Linked DNA regions of Homo sapiens: region 2 is linked to region 1. Evidence: fine-mapped expression QTL. A gene starts in region 1. The other region holds a variant in brackets. All regions are shown on one strand. Distances are between the middles of the regions.

The links. PIP is the estimated chance that this variant, and not a neighbour inherited with it, causes the effect.
Region 2: its variant is fine-mapped to the expression of RGL3 in whole blood (Lepik 2017, PIP 0.95).

Annotation. Positions count from the first base shown.
Region 1 is chr19:11,414,163-11,422,371 of GRCh38, reverse strand. RGL3 (ral guanine nucleotide dissociation stimulator like 3) reads left to right here and starts at 3,058. Exons shown (of 19, transcript NM_001035223.4): 1 at 3,058-3,126; 2 at 3,588-3,701; 3 at 5,313-5,536; 4 at 5,705-5,758; 5 at 6,224-6,435. The coding sequence starts at 3,094. It overlaps ODAD3 (outer dynein arm docking complex subunit 3), which reads left to right. Exons shown (of 13, transcript NM_145045.5): 11 at 540-695; 12 at 1,160-1,244; 13 at 1,425-1,767. The coding sequence ends at 1,537. RefSeq lists an enhancer at 949-998.
Region 2 is chr19:11,328,156-11,336,548 of GRCh38, reverse strand. It overlaps RAB3D (RAB3D, member RAS oncogene family), which reads left to right. Exons shown (of 5, transcript NM_004283.4): 3 at 766-884; 4 at 978-1,102. Among named protein-coding and RNA genes, the nearest start is that of RAB3D, 7.3 kb to the left of the region's middle. The variant C/T (reference allele first, on the strand shown) is at 4,723.

The DNA.
Region 1 (8,209 bases):
GTGGCCTGCCACATCCTCTGTCCCGGACGTCAGAGGCCCCGCCCACAGGGGAAGCCCCACCCCATTCCTCAGAGTCCCCGCCCCACCTCCCTGGGGAAGCTCTCACTCCCCAAGGAAGCCCAAGACGTCAGAGACCCTGTCCCGTCTCAAGCTCCGCCTCCAAGGGAAAGAAGTCCCACCCTGTCCCCGAAAAGCTCGGAGACCTATCTGCAGTTCTGGAGCAGCCCGAGACAGAAGACCTATCCTGCCCGCAGCAGAGGGCCATTTCTTCAGGAGGCCATCCCACAATGGCCTCCCTCGAATCCTTACTGTTCCCAAGAGGCCTCCCCGAAACCTTTACATATAGAGTTAGAGTTCAGAGGCTCCCCCATCACAGACGTGGCCTTGACCTAAGTCCCCGCCCCCAATGGCTAGGATCGACCCTGCAGGTGGGCCCTTACCTCCTAGGCCCCGCCCCCGAAAGAAAAGCCCCGCCCCTGGGTGGAGCCTTCCAAGAGGCCCCACCCCTCTCGGCTGACCCGGCTCTACCCTGGCCGCAGGAGGACGGCCGCTTCGCGGGAAAGGAGCTGGATCCCCAGGCAGATAACTATGTGCCAAACCTGCTGGGCCTCGTGGAGGAAAAGCTGCTGAAACTGCAGGCGCAGCTCCAGGGCCACGACGTGCAGGAGATGCTGTGCCACATCGCTAACCGCGAGGTGCCCTGCAGCCATGGGGCAGAGCTCCAGAGATCTAGGAGTAGGGCTGGGTCGGAAAACCAGGGAACCGGGGGCAACTTCGGGAGACCAGATTGCAGGCTGATCAGCCAGGAAGGGGTCTCGGGGACAACGGGCGAGGTTTGACGAGCCAGGGGTGAGCCCGAGCCACGAGGGAAGAAACCAGAAGAGGTGCAGGCGGGTCCTGTGAGGCTAGAGGACGCGGCTGGGGTATCCGGATGGGGAGAGGCCTAGTGGCAGGGCCCCAGAGACCAGGGGCGGACCTGAGTGATGAGGGGGTGAAGCTGGGTATCAAGGTGCCTGCTTAAGGAGGGATGGGAGTGGGCAGTGGTCTCCAGTTGGAACTAGGGCATATCTCGGAATGGGGTAGGGAGGAGGGGGAACGTGACTTCTCGGTGGCCCCTGGCCCCGCCCACCTTCCTCTCTCGCTTCCCATCCCCGCTTAGTTCCTCGCCAGCTTAGAGGGAAGGCTGCCCGAATACAACACCCGCATCGCCCTGCCCCTTGCCACTTCCAAGGACAAGTTTTTTGGTCAGTATGGGTGGGGGGATGAAGGGGTGCGGTTGGGGCCCCAAGCTGGGTAGCAGGAGGTTGTCAGATACCCTGTTCAGGGCCAAGGTGGGGGTGGAGTGGGGTGGTAAAGGGAAGGGGAGCCAGGGATGGGGACCTGGATCCCACATCGCTCCCTGCTCATCCCCCCACCCCCCTTAGACGAAGAGAGTGAGGAGGAGGACAACGAGGTAGTGACCCGCGCATCACTCAAGATCCGTTCCCAGAAATTAATCGAAAGTCACAAGAAGCACCGTCGCTCTCGGAGGTCCTAGACTCGTCCTGACACCCACCAGGCGGCCCCCTTCGGAGCCCCCGATCCCTCCGGGTCTAGCGCAGGCCCCACGGGGCCCCTTCAGGGGCTGAACGCGGCCCGGACCGGGAACGGAGGCGGCCAGCGGCGCCCGGAGGGGAGGAAGGGGCCGGGCCAGACGTTCCCACAGTAAATCTCCCCAGCTGGGTCCGCCCCGGCCTCAGAGTTGCGCAATAAATGTTACCGACCATGCCCCTGGGTATTCATCTGTTTTTGACCCTGCACCACCCAAGAGACGGCTGTCCCTGAAAACCCAGGGCCACAGACTGCCTCCTCCAACCTGGGTCATGATGACTCCCATCAGCTAGTGACGCAGATGGAGCTTAAAAATGGGAGATGGCCCGATGTAGTGGTTTTATGCCTGTAATCCCAGTATTTTGGGAGGCTGAGTTGGGAGGATCACTTGAGTCCAGGAGCTCCAGGCTGCAGTGAGCTATGATCGTGCTACTGCACTCCAGCCTGGGCCACAGAGCCAGACCCTGTCTCAATAAATAAAATAAGGGCGGGGTGCAGTGGCTCATTCATACCTATATTCCCAGCACTTTGGGAGGCTGAGCTGGGTGTGTCGCTTGAGCCCAGGGGTTCCAGACTAGCCTGGGCAACATGGTGAAAACCAGTTTTTACCAAAAAAAAAAAAAAAAAAAAAAAAAAAAAAAAAAAAGCTGAGCATGGTGGCATATGCCTGTAGTCCCAGCTACTTGGGAGACTGAGGCAGGAGAATGGATTGAACCCAGGAGGCGGAGATTGCAGTGAGCCAAGATCAAGCCACTGCACTGCAGCCTTGGCAACAGGAGTGAGACCCTGTCTCTAAAAAATAATAAGGCTGGGCGCCGTGGTTCATGCCTGTAATCCCAGCATTTTGGGAGGCTGAGGTGGGCGAATCTCTTGAGGCCAGGAGTTTGAGACCAGCCTGGCAAGTATGGCAAAACCCCGCCTCTACAAAAAATACAAAAATTAGCTGAGCATGGTGGCGGCACCTGTAATCCTAGCTACTTGGGAGGCTGAGGCACAAGAATCCTTTGAATCTGGGAGGCGGAGGTTGCAGTGAGTTAAGATCAAGCCACTGTACTCCAGCATGGGTGACAGAACGAGACTCCATCTCAAAATAATAGCAATAATAATAAAAAGTGGAAGATGCCCCCACACTTGATCAAGCTAGCCCCTTCCACTGGAGGACAGAGGACTCTGGTCTGGGGACACACACATGCCCCCACACAGGAGCTCCCCCACATCTGGGGATACAAAAAAGACCCCTTGGGGACAGATATGTCCTTTCTTCTGGGGACAGATTGATAGGCACCCAGCGGAAGAGCCAGGACCTCTCCTGGGCTGGCGCTGGGTCCGGCTGGAGGCACCCAGAGGCTGGGTCCGGCCTGCCCTGCCCCGCCCCGCCCCAGCAGCTCGGCCGCTCCGCCCCTCTGGCCTCAGCGCCCGGCCACTGCCCGCCGCCCGCCACCCGCCACCCGCCGGCCCTTCCGCCTCACTCAGCGGCGCCACTGAGAGGGACGGGCGCCGGCCATGGAGCGCACAGCAGGCAAAGAGCTGGCCCTGGTAAGGGGACAAGGGATCCCCGGACCCCGCATCCCTGGTGACCCGCAGGTCCAGAAACTCCAAGCGCCCGCCCGTCGGACGGTATCTGCTCCCAATCTGAACTTGCCCTGGAGTCCCCTCCTGGGGACTCGCGGCCCTTGACCCAGTGAAGCGACTGGTTCCTCTTAGGGATGGGGGCGCGAGTCTCTGAGCGCAGTCGGCAGAAAGAGCTAGAGACAGGTTCTATTAGACTGGGCCCTGGGACATCCCCAAATGCCACCCCATGTCCTCAGGACCTGGGAGGAGGGGACCCGCAGCGAGGAGGGGACTAGCCTGGGACCCCAGCCCTAGTCTCGCAGCTTCTGGCCGGGAAGGGGCGTGGGGATGCAGCAGGAGGACTCGGCCCGAGTCCGAGCGGCCAAGGAGGCTGAGGCCCCAGGACCTGTGCCCCTTTGGTGCCCTGAGTCCGCCTGTGCGTCCAGGCACCGCTGCAGGACTGGGGTGAAGAGACCGAGGACGGCGCGGTGTACAGTGTCTCCCTGCGGCGGCAGCGCAGTCAGCGCAGGAGCCCGGCGGAGGGCCCCGGGGGCAGCCAGGTGAGGAGGGGGTTTGGTGGGTGGCGCGGGGCCGGAAGCGACCAGTTGAGGGCGGAGCTGGAGAGCCGAGCACAGGCCGCCAGGTGCAGTGGGCGGAAGGAAGGGAGGGGCTCGGAGGCGACCAGATGAGGCGACCAGGTAGAAAGGGGACTGGGGGCGGCCAGGTAAGTGGGGGGAGATCCAGGGAATGGGGTGGGGCCAGGCGATGGCCGCGCAGTTCCCGAGAGGAGCCTAGGGACAACTTGGTAAGGACAGAACTGGACGGCAGAGTTGGGAAAGGCAGGTTTAGAGGGCCGGGGCTGGAAGGTGGAATGGGGTTGGTTTAGAAGTGGCTAGGTGAGGGCGGATGGGGCAGCCAGTGAAGCGCGACAGGAGGGCTGAGGGAAGCCCTGGGTGGAAAAGAGTGTGTGGGGCGGGGGCGGGGGGGTGGGGGGAGGGGACGGGAGGGGGAGGGGACGGGAGAGGGAGTAGGGGACAGGGCATGGGAGAGGGAGGGTTTCCAGGGCAAGTTGCAGGAGCTATTTGTGGATGGGGAGGAACAATAACTTCAAGCGGGCAGGGAGTGGGGCACACACCTATAATCCCTGCGCTTCGAGAGACCAAGGCAGAAGGCCAGGAATTGGAGACCAGCCTGGACAACACAGCAAGATTCTCTCTAATAAAAATAAAAATTAAAAAACTAGCTGTGCGTGATGATGCCCAGCAGTGGTCCCAGCTACTCAGGAGGCTGGGGCAGAGGGACCGCTTGAGTCTAGGACTTGGAGGCTGCAGTGAGCTATGATTGTGCCACTGCACCCCAGCCTGGGCAACAAAACAAGACCTGTTTCTAAAAAAAACAAACCAAAACAATAACTCCAAGAAGCCGGGAGACAGAGGAATCACATGAAAGAATGGTGCTACAGGCGGGGCGAGGTGGCTCACGCCTGTAATCCCAGCACTTTGGGAGGCCGAGGCAAGTGGATCATCAGGTCAGGAGTTCAAGACCAACCTGGCCAAGACGGTGAAACACCGTCTCTACTAAAAATACGAAAAAACTAGCTGGGCTTGGTGGCGGGTGCCTGTAATCCCAGATACTTGGGAGGCTGAGGCAGAGAATTGCTTGAACCCAGGAGGCGGAGGTTGCAGTGAGCCAAGATCACGCCACTGAACTCCAGCCTAGGTGACAGAGTGAGATTCTGTCTCAAAAAAAAAAAAAAAAAAGTGGTGCTAGGGGCTGGGCACGGTGGTTCACGCCTGTAATCCTAGCCCTTTGGGAGACTTTGGGAGGCCAAGGGGGGCAGATTACTTGAGGTCAGGAGTTCGAGACCAGTCTGACCAACATGGTGAAACCCTATCTCTACAAAAATACAAAAATTAGCTGGGCTTGGTGGTGTGCGCCTGTAGTTTCAGCTACTTGGAGGCTGAGGAAGGAGGATTGCTTGAACCCAGGAGGCAGAAGTTGAAGTGACCCAAGATCGTGCCACTGCACTCCAGCCTGGGCAACAGAGTGAGACTCTGTCTCAAAAAAAAAAACAAAAAAAAAAAGAGTGGTGCTAGTGATGAATGTGACTAGAGAAGGGGTGCTGTGAGGACCACTCCTGCTCTCTCATGGCCACCTCTCCCCTCCTGCAGGCTCCCAGCCCCATTGCCAATACCTTCCTCCACTATCGAACCAGCAAGGTGAGGGTGCTGAGGGCAGCGCGCCTGGAGCGGCTGGTGGGAGAGTTGGTGTTTGGAGACCGTGAGCAGGACCCCAGCTTCATGCCCGCCTTCCTGGCCACCTACCGGACCTTTGTACCCACTGCCTGCCTGCTGGGCTTTCTGCTGCCACCAATGCCACCGCCCCCACCTCCCGGGTCAGTAGCGAACCATAACCTCCGTATTCTCCACCCTAGAACCCCAACTGGGCACCCCCCTCCACCTCCTCAGGTGTGGAACCTGGAAACACCTCCCAGACCCAGAGCCCTCTTCCTAAGCCCCCTCTAGGTTCCCCCTTCTTCACCTGCTGGGGGGCCTCTTCCCAGGGTAGAGATCAAGAAGACAGCGGTACAAGATCTGAGCTTCAACAAGAACCTGAGGTGGGTCCTTCATCCAGATAGGGGAGTGCGGGGAGGGAAATCCAAGAGGTCAAAGGTTAGCAGTCGGACTGGGGTTTTGAAAATTGCAGGTTGGGTAATAAGAGACTGGGAGTCAGGTGGGGCGTGGTGGCTCATGCCTGTAATCCCAACACTTTGGGAGGCCGAGGCAGGTGGATCACTGGAGGTCAGGAGTTAGAGACCATCCTGGCCAATATGGCGAAACCCTGTCTCTACTAAAAATACAACAACAACAAAAAAAGGTAGCTGGGTGTGGTGGCGCATGCCTGTAGTCCCAGCTACTCGGGAGGCTGAGGTTGCAGTGAGTCAAGATCAGGCCATTGCACTGCAGCCTTGGTGACACAGTAAGACTCTATCTCAAAAAAAAAAAAAAAAAAAAGGTACCAGGAGTCATATTCTATGTCCCCCACTCTGGACCCAGCTCTGAGACCCTGCCTCTCTGGCCAGGGCTGTGGTGTCAGTGCTGGGCTCCTGGCTGCAGGACCACCCTCAGGATTTCCGAGACCACCCTGCCCATTCGGACCTGGGCAGTGTCCGAACCTTTCTGGGCTGGGCGGCCCCAGGGAGTGCTGAGGCTCAAAAAGCAGAGAAGCTTCTGGAAGATTTTTTGGAGGAGGCTGAGCGAGAGCAGGAAGAGGAGCCGCCTCAGGTGTGGACAGGTGAGGGGTTTTCAGATCCAGTCGTGTTCTGAGAAGGCCTTTCCTGTCTGCTTCTTCCCACACAGGCTTTCTCTCCCCTCTCAGAGCTACAAAACTTAAGCAAGATTTTAAACTCTAAGCCTCAATTTCTTCATCTTTACAATGGGGATAATAATTCTTTGTCAGCCGGGCGTGGTGGCTCACGCCTGTATCCCAGCAGTTTGGGAGGCCAAGGATGGTGTATCACCTGAGGTCAGGAGTTTGAGACCAGTCTGACAAACATGGAGAAACCCCATCCCTACTAAAAATACAAAATTAGCCGGGCGTGGTGGGGCATGTCTATAATCCCAGCTATTCGGGAGGCTGAGGCAGGAGAATCGTTTGAACCCGGGAGGCGGAGGTTGCGGTGAGTCGAGATCGTGCCATTGCACTCTCGCCTGGACAACCAGAGCGAAACTCCGTCTAAAAAAAAAAACAAATTCTTTGTCTGAAGTATTAGCATGTGTCTAATACTTTTCCCTCCTTGGTGCCGTTGGGTCAGGATGCTCTGTGTTTCTAGCTACAAACCATTGCCTTGATACTTGTCTTTATTTTCTTTTTTTTGAGTCAGGGTCTTGCTCCGTTGCTCAGGCTGGAGTGCAGTGTCTCCATCATGGCTCAGTGCAGGCTCAACATCCTGGACTCAGGTGATCCTCCCGCCTGGGTCTCCAAAACTGCTGGCATTACAGGCGCGAGCCACTATACCTAGCCTGTAAAATTTTTCTTATTTTTGAATTTCTTTTTAAATTTAATTTAATTTAATTTTATTTTTTTATCTATTTTTTTTTTTAGACAGAGTCTCGCACTGTTACCCAGGCTGGAGTGCAGTGGCACAATCTTGGCTCACTGCAACCTCCACCTCCTGGGCTCAAGCCATTCTCCTGTCTCAGCCTCCTGAGTAGCTGGGACCACAGGCGCATGTCACCACGCCCGGCTAATTTTTTTGTAAAGGTGAGGTTGTGCCATGTTGCCCAGGCTGGTCTCAAACTCCTGAACTCAAGTGATCTGCCTGCCTTGGCCTCCCAAAATGCTGGGATTACAGCCATAAGCCATTGTGCATGCGTAGCCTCCTTACTTGATTATTGGCTTTTGCTCATCTCATAGGCTGTGAGTGCATGAGAGGAGGACCTGTTGTTCTTGCTCCCAGCTCTGTCCCCAGGGGCAGGAACAACACAGATTAGTTTGCTGAATAATTGCATCCTGCTTAGGAAGTATCATCTTTCACCCATCTGTATTTGATCTGATCCACATCACAAAAGCATCTCTATCCCTAATCCCCATCGCTTAATCTCCAGATTATAGTGGCCACCTTCCTGTCCAATTTACAAAGTAGCAGCCACTTCTCTATCCCTGGTGACAAAGTCTCAGTTATTTATATATATATAAAGGTATATATATATATATATATATATATATATATATATATATGAAGGTGTATATATATATATATATATGAAGGTATATATATATATGTATATATATGAAGGTATATATATATAAAGGTATATATATATAAAGGTATATATATAAAGGTATATATATATATAAAGGTATATATAAAGGTATATATATATAAAGGTATATATATATATATGAAGGTATATATATATATGTATATATATGAAGGTATATATATATAAAGGTATATATATATAAAGGTATATATATAAAGGTATATATATATATAAAGGTATATATATATAAAGGTATATATATATATAAAGGTATATATATATAGGTGTATATATATATATAT
Region 2 (8,393 bases), 86 kb after region 1:
CACTTGAGCCCAGCGGTTCCAGACCAGCCTGGACAACATAGCGAGATCTCATCTCTAAAAAAAACTTTAAACATTAGCCCAGCATGGTAGCTCCCGCCTGTAGTCTCAGCTATTCAGGAGGCTGAGGCAAGAGGATTGCTTGAGCCCAGGAGTTCGAGGCTGCAGTGAGCTATGATTGCACCGCTGCATTCCATCATGGGTGACAGGGCAAGACCCCATCTATTAAAAAAAGAAAGAAAGAAAAAAGAAAGGTCCCAGGTGCTGGTGACCAACAGGGAAGAGTTTTGGGTACCATCTTAGAGGGGACCCTGGGACCCCCATTGGACCGACCTGGTCTGCAGAGTCACACCTAGCTCCCTCTCCCAACTTAGCCGCTGGTAACAATCATCGTGGTAGCAAGAGTACCAAGGTGTCCTGTCAGGATGGTACCATCTGGCCCAGTTGGTTCTTAGAGACAAGGTCAAAGGGGCTCATAAGTCTGTGAGAGGCCACTGACCCCTGAGACTTGGAACCCCTCAAGGGCAAGCCCAAGTCTCTCCCTCATCAGACTGGGGAGATCCCTTGGTAATGAATCCATGCCTCCCCCATCAGACTGGGGTTGTGAGGGCAGGATCTGTGTATTCTCCATCAGACCAGAGGTTGTACAAGCAAGTCTGTGTCTCCCCCGTAAGGCTGGGGCTATGAGTACAGGGCAGTGCCCCTCTAAGACAGGGGTGGACTGGGAAACAGGTAGTTCCCAGCCAACTGCCACTGCCATTTGTCCAGGACACAGCGGGCCAGGAGCGCTACCGCACCATCACCACGGCCTACTACCGGGGAGCCATGGGCTTCCTGCTCATGTATGACATCGCCAATCAGGAATCCTTTGCCGCTGTGCAGGACTGGTGAGTGCTTGCTGATCATGGACCCCTGATCTTTGCCCTCTCCTCTGACCCCTAACCCCCCCGGCTCATGGCTCACCACTGGTAACTCTGCAGGGCCACGCAAATCAAGACCTACTCCTGGGACAACGCCCAGGTCATCCTGGTGGGGAACAAGTGTGACCTGGAGGACGAACGTGTTGTGCCTGCTGAGGATGGCCGGAGGCTCGCCGACGACCTTGGTTAGTGCCCAGCCTGGGCCACAGGCCCTGGTCTCCCAGAACCAAACCCTCATCCCCATCCTCTGATTCAGGGTCCAACCCAGTCACTGATCCTTTGAGGATCTGCCCAGGAAGATACCCATGTGTATGCCACATGTCCCGTCTAATTGCAGGGGATCCACGCGCAGGAACTCCCACTGCCCCACTGCCTATCCCCTGGGAACCCAGCAAAACCATTTCTGGAAATTGATCCTAGAGATATCCTCACCCATGTGGGATATGGTGTGTGGAGTGTAGTAGTAGTATTAGTAGGAGTGAAACCTACAGATCCCCCCCAGGTGTCTCACAGTTGGAGAACCAAGTGGACATAAAGTATATTCACATGGTGGAATACTATGCAGCCATGGAAAAGGATGGGGATGTTCTTTATTTTTTTATTTTTTATTTTTTTGAGACGGAGTCTCGCTCTGTCGCCCAGGCTGAAGTGCAGTGGCGCGATCTCGGCTCACTGCAAGCTCCGCTTCCCAGGTTTATTTTATTTTTTTGAGTTGGAGTCTCACTCTGTCACCCAGACTGGAGTGCAGTGGTGCCGTATTGGCTCACTGCAGCCTCCACCTCCCAGGTTCAAGCAATTCTCCTGCTTCAGCCTCCCAAGTAGCTGGTACTACTGGCGCGTGCCACATGCCCAGCTAATTTTTTATATTTTTAGTAAAGATGGGGTTTCACCATGTTAGCCAGGATGGTCTCCATCTCCTGACCTCGTGATCTGCCCGCCTTGGCCTCCCAAAGTGCTGGGATTACAAGCGTGAGGCACCATGCCTGGCCTTTTTTTTTAATTTTGCGTGGAGATAGGGTCTCGCTATGTTTCCCAGGCTGGCCTCGAACTCCTGACCTTAAGTGATCCTCCCTCCTCAGCCTCCCAAAGTGCTAGGATTGCAGGCATGAGCCACCACACCAGCCCAAGGGGATGTTCTTTATGGTTTGTTTTTGTTTTTGTTTGAGATGGAGTCTCCCTCTGTTGCCCAGGCTAGAGTGCAGTGGTGCGATCTTGGCTCACTGCAACCTCTACCTCCTGCATTCAAGTGATTCTCCTTCCTCAGCCTCCTGAGTATCCAGGATTACAGGTGTGCGCAGCATGCCTGACTCATTTTTGTATTTTCAGTAGAGATGGGGTTTTGCCATGTTGGCCAGGCTGGTCTTGAACCCCTGACAGGTGATCCACCTGCCTCAGCCTCCCGAAGTGTTGGGATTACAGGCGTGAGCCACCGTGCCTGGCTGTTTTGTTCTAGCAAAATAGTGGATACGACTGCTTTCTTTAGTCCAGGAGTCAGCAAACCTTTTCTTAAAGGGCCAGATAGTAAATATTTTTGGCCATACAGTCTCTATGGCAACTACCCAACTCTGCATGACAGCAGCCACAGACAATGCATAAATGAATGGGTGTGACTGTTTGCCAATAAAACTTTATTTGTGGCCGGGCGTGGTGGCTCATGCCTGAAATCCCAGCACTTTGGGAGGCTGAGACAGGCAGATCACCTGAGGCCAGGAGTTCTAGACCAGCCTGGCCAACATGGCAAAACCCCGTCTCTACTAAAAATGCACAAAAATTAGCCGGGCATGGTGACAGACGCCTGTAATCCCAGCTACTTGGGAGGCTGAGGCAGAAGAATCACTTGAACCTGAGAGGTGGAGGCTGCAGTGAGCCGATATCACGCCACTGCACTCCAGCCTGGGCAATGGGGGGAGACTCTGTCTCAAAAGAAAAAAAAAAAAAGGAAAGAAAGAAACTGATGCTTGCAATCAGTTTTTAACCCCAGCTTTCCCATAAGCCCCATCCAAGCCAGCACCCTATGTGCAAAATTCAGAAGGCACAGGAAGAGACTAAGGCAATAACCCACTCCCCACCTGCAGTTCTGGTCTCCCAGCTTCTCTGATTCTTGTATCTCTTTCCAGAAATATGCTGAGCACCCACAGGCATTGACAACACATTGGCTACTTTTTTGTTTTACACAGATGTTCCCTACTGTATATACCCTTTCCTGCACTTTGAACTTTTCTACTAAATAATATATCCTAGAAATATTTCTCTGCCGGGCGCAGTGGCTCACGCTTGTAATCCCAGCACTTTGGGAGGCCGAAGAGGGCGGATCATGAGGTCAGGAGATCAAGAACATCCTGGCTAACACTGTGAAACTCCATCTCTACTAAAAATACAAAAAAATTAGCCAGGCGTGGTGGTGGGCGCCGGTAGTCCCAGCTTCTCGGGAGGCTGAGGCAAGAGAATGGTGTGAACCCGGGAGGCGGAACTTGCAGTGAGCCAAGATCACGCCACTACACTCCAGCCTGGGTAGAAGAGCAGGACTCTTTCTCAAAAAAAAAAAAAAAAAGAAATATTTCTCCATCAGCCCCAGAGCTGGCTCATTCTTTTGCATGGCTGTGTACTATTCCATTTCGTGTTTCCTTAACCTTTTCCTCTGTTGACAGCCATGGAGATTATTTCTAGCCTTTTCCTCTGACAAATGCAGCTGCAGCAGTCATTTTTACATATATTTCTTTGGACACATGAGGCAAGAAATCTGCCAGCTTGATTCACAGATGTTCTTAACACTTTTTTTTTTTGAGATGGAGTCACTGCACCTGGTTGGTTTTTATAGTCCCGGCCTACACTTTTTTAAAAAAATAACTTTGGCCAGGAATGGTGGCATGTGCTTGTAATCCCAGCTACTCTGGAGACTGAATTAGGAGGATTGCTTCAGGCCAAGAATTTGAGACCAGCTTGGGCAATATAGCGAGACCCTGTCTCAAAAAAGGAAGAAAATAATAACTTTTTGTGATAAAAATGTTCAAATACTCTCAGCACATTGGGAGGGCAAGGTGGGTAGATCGCTGAAGCCCAGGACTTTGAGACCAGCCTGGTCAACATGGTAAACCCTGTCTCTACAAAAAAATGCAAAAATTAGCTAAGCATGGTGGCTCACACCTATAGTCTCAGCTACTCAGGAGGCTGAGGTGGGAGGATCGCTTGAGCCTGGGAGGCAGAGGTTGCATTGAGCCAAGATTGCACCACTGTATGCCAGCCTGGGTGACAGAGTGAGACCTTGTCTCAAAAAACAATGAAATAAAATGAGAAATGTTCGGCCAGGCGTGGTGGCTCACGCCTGTAATCCCAGCACTTTGGGAGGCCGAGGCAGGCGGATCACCTGAGGTCAGGAGTTTGAGACCAACCTGACCAACATGGTGAAACCTCATCTCTACTAAAAATACAAAATTAGCCGGTCGTGGTGGCGCATGCCTGTAATTCCGGCTACTCAGGAGGCTGAGGGAGGAGAATCACTTGAACCCAGGAGGCGGAGGTTGTGTGAGCTGAGATCGCACCATTGCACTCCGGCCTGGGTAAGAAGAGTGAAACTCCATCTAAGAAAAGTTCAAATACATTCACAAGTAGAAAGGAATGTATAATAGACTTTGATAAAACATTATTCAGCTTAATTAGGTCTCAACATTTTTTCAATCTTGAATCATCTATTCCCCCAAAATACTTTTCCTTTTTTTCCTAGAGCATTGAGAGCAAACCCTTGACATCGAAACCTTTTGTCTGTAAACACTTCACTATGCAACTCCAGCTGTTTTGTTGTCGTCGT[C/T]GTTTTTTAAATAATAGAGACAGAGCCTCACTCTTTCACCCAGGCTGGAGTACAGTGGTGTGATCCCACCACTTTAGGAGGCTGAGGAGGGAGGATTGCTTGAGCCCAGGGGTTAGAGACCAGCCTGGGCAACATAGTGAGACCCCAACTCTACAAAATAAGTTTAAAGCTCCCTGTAGCCTCAGACACCTGGGCTCAAGTGATTCTGCTGCCTCAGCCTTTCAAGTAGCTGGGACTACTAGTATAAGCCAGCACACTGGCTAATTTTTTATTTTTATTTTTTGTAGAGATGAGGTCTCACTATATTGCCCAGGCTGGTCTTGAACTCCTGGGCTCAAGCAGTCGGCCTGCCTCAGCCTCCCAAAGTGCTGGGATTACAGGCATGAGCCACGGCACCTGGTTGGTTTTTACATTTTTAAGTGGTTGAAAAAAAATAATATGACATGGGAAATTTATATGAAATTCAAATTTGTATCTATAAATGAAGTTTTTCTGAGACACAGCTATACCCTTTTAAAAGAATTTTTTTTTTACACGGAGTCTTGCTCTTGTCGCCCAGGCTGGAGTGCAATGGCGTGATTTCGGCTCATTGCCACCTCCGCCTCCCCAGTTCAAGTGATTCTCTTGCCTCAGCCTCCTGAGTAGCTGGGATTACAGGCACCCACCACCACGGGGCCTGGCTAATTTTTGTATCTTTAGTAGAGATGGGGTTTCACTATGTTAGCCAGGCTGGTCTGGAATTCCTGACCTCAGGTGATCCACCCGCCTCAACCTCCCAACCATTTATTTTTTAAATTTTTTTTTTTTTTTTGAGGCAAGGTCTCTCTCTGGTGCTCAGGCTGGAGTGCAGTGGCACGATCATAACTCAAAGCAGCCTCCAACTCCTGGGCTCAAGTGATCCTCCCACCTCAGCCTCCCAAGTAGCTGGGATGCCAGGTGTACTCCACCACACCTGCCTAATTAAAAAAAAATTTTTTTGCCGGGCGCAGTGGCTCATGCCTGTAATCCCAGCACTTTGGGAGGCCGAGGCGGGTGGATCACAAGGTCAGAAGCTTGAGACCACCCTGGCCAACATGGTGAAACCCCGTCTCTACTAAAAATACAAAAAAATTAGCCGGGTGTGGTGGTACACACCTGTAATCCCAGCTACTCAGGAGGCTGAGGCAGGAGAATTGCTTGAACCTGGGAGGCAGAGGTTGCAGTGAGCCGAGATCGTGCCACTGCACTCCAGCCTGGGCAAGAGAGCGAGACTCCGTCTCAAAAAAGAAAAAAATTTTAAGAGATAGGTCTTGCCATGTTGTCTGGGCTGATCTTGAACTCCTGGGCTTAAGCAGTCCTCCCACCTTGGCCTCCCAAAGTGCTGGGATCACAGGAGTGAACTCACACCCGTGCTCAGTTGATGCCTATTTGTTGATGCATTGTCTATGGTTGCTATTTTTATGGTAATCACACGTCTGTGATTACAGGCTGTCTCAATACAGAAAAGGGTATAAACAGTGCTTCAAGCGTGAAATTGAGTAATTGAGACAGAGACCATATGACCCAGAAAGCCTAAAATATTTACGATCTGGCCTTTTACAGAGGAGGTTTGCTGACCTCTAAGCCATAACCAGTCCCTTTCCCCTTTTATTCTTGCCATTGCTTTGTTGGAGAAACTGGATCTCTGTTCTGTGGGGCAGGGCCCTGGATCCCCAGTTAGCCTGGAAGTGGTGAAATCAGTTAACGCCCGCGATGGGCTGGAATACTTGGAGGTGCTTTCCACACCTACTTGCGGATTATATCTGGGGTCTCGGGGTAAAGGGGGATTCTCACTTTCTGTTATTATGTTTAAAATATTGGAGTACAGGCCAGGTTCGGTGGCTCACGCCTGTAATCCTAGCACTTTGGGAGGCTGAAGTGGGCAGATCACTTGATGTCAGGAGTTCGAGACCAGCCTGGCCAACATGGTAAAACCCTGTCTCTACCAAAAATACAAAAATTAGCTGGGTGTGGTGGCACGTGCCTGTAATCCCAGCTACTTGGAAAGCTGAGGTATGAGAACCATTTGAACCCGGGAGGCGGAGGTTGCAATGAGCCAAGATCGCGCCATTGCGTTCCAGCCTGGGTGATGGAGTGAGCCTGTATCTCACACACACACAAAAAGAAGATTGGCATACAAAGCAGGACACAGAATTTGATCCCAATTTTTTTTTCTTTTCTTTTGTTTTATTTTTTTTTTTGAGATGGAGTTTCGCTCTTGTTGCCCAGGCTGGAGTGCAGTGGCACAATCTTGGCTCGCTGCAACCTCCGCCTCCCAGGTTCAAGCAATTCTCCTGCCTCAGCCTCCCGAACAGCTGGGATTACAGGCATGTGCCACCACGCCTGGCTACTTTTGTATTTTTAGTAGAGATGGGGTTTCACCATGTTGGTCAGGCTGGTATCAAACTCCTGACCTCAGGTGATCCGCTGCCTCGGCCTCCCAAACTGCTGGGATTACAGGTGTGAGCCACCACGCCTGGCCTGATTCCAATTTTGTAGGAAAAAAAGCCAGACACACATACATGTGCACACACACATCCCCTACAAACCTAACCCCAACAAATGACATATTTATATAGAAAAAGACTAAAGGCTGGGCATGGTGGCTCATGCCTGTAATCCTTGCACTTTGGGAGGTCAAGGCAGAGGATCACTTGAGTCTAGCAGTTAGAGACCAGCATGGGCAACATGGTGAAGCCCCACCCCTATAAAAAATACCAAAAATCGGCTGTGTGTGGTGGCACACCCCTATAGTCCCAGCTACTTGGGAGACTGAGGGGGGCCCAAGAGTCAAGGCCGTAGTGAGTTATGATTATACCACTGCACTCCAGCCTGGGCAACAGAGGGAGACTCTGTCTTAAAAAAAAAAAAAAAAAGATGAATAAAGACTAGAAAGCTAAATAGCAAAACGCCAACAGTAATTGTTTCCAAGTGATGAGATTACAAATTACTTTTATCTCTATCTCCATACATTTCTTTGTGTTTTTGTTTTGAGACAGGGTCTCACTCTGTTGCCCAGGCTGGAGTGCAATGGCATGACCTCAGCTCACTGCAGCCTCAACTTCCCTGGCTTAGGTCATCCTCCCACCTCAGCCTCCCAAGTAGGTGGGACTACGGGTGCATGCCACCACACCTGGCTAATATTTATTTATTTATTTATTTAGAGATGGAGTCTTGCTCTGTTGCCAGGCTGGAGTGCAGTGGCATAATCTCGGCTCACTGCAACCTACACCTCCCGGGTTCAAGCAATTCTTCTGCCTCAGCCTCCTGAGTAGCTGGGACTGCAGGCACGTGCCACCACACAAAGCTAAATTTTGTATTTTTAGTAGAGACGGGGTTTCACCGTATTGGCCCTGGTCTCGAACTCCTGACCTCGTGATCCGCCCACCTCCGTCTCCCAAAGTGCTGGAATTACAGGCGTGAGCCACCACGCCTGGCACCCCCCAACCTTCTTCTTTTTTTTTTTTTTTTTTTTGAGATAATATCTTGTTCTGTCACCCAGCCTGGAGTACAATGGCACAATCTCGGCTCACTGCAACCTCCGCCTCCCAGGTTCAAGTGATCCTCCTGCTTCAGCCTCCTAAGTAGCTGGGATCACAGGTGTGCACCACCATGGCCAGCTAATTTTTGCATTTTTAGTAGAGACGGGGTTT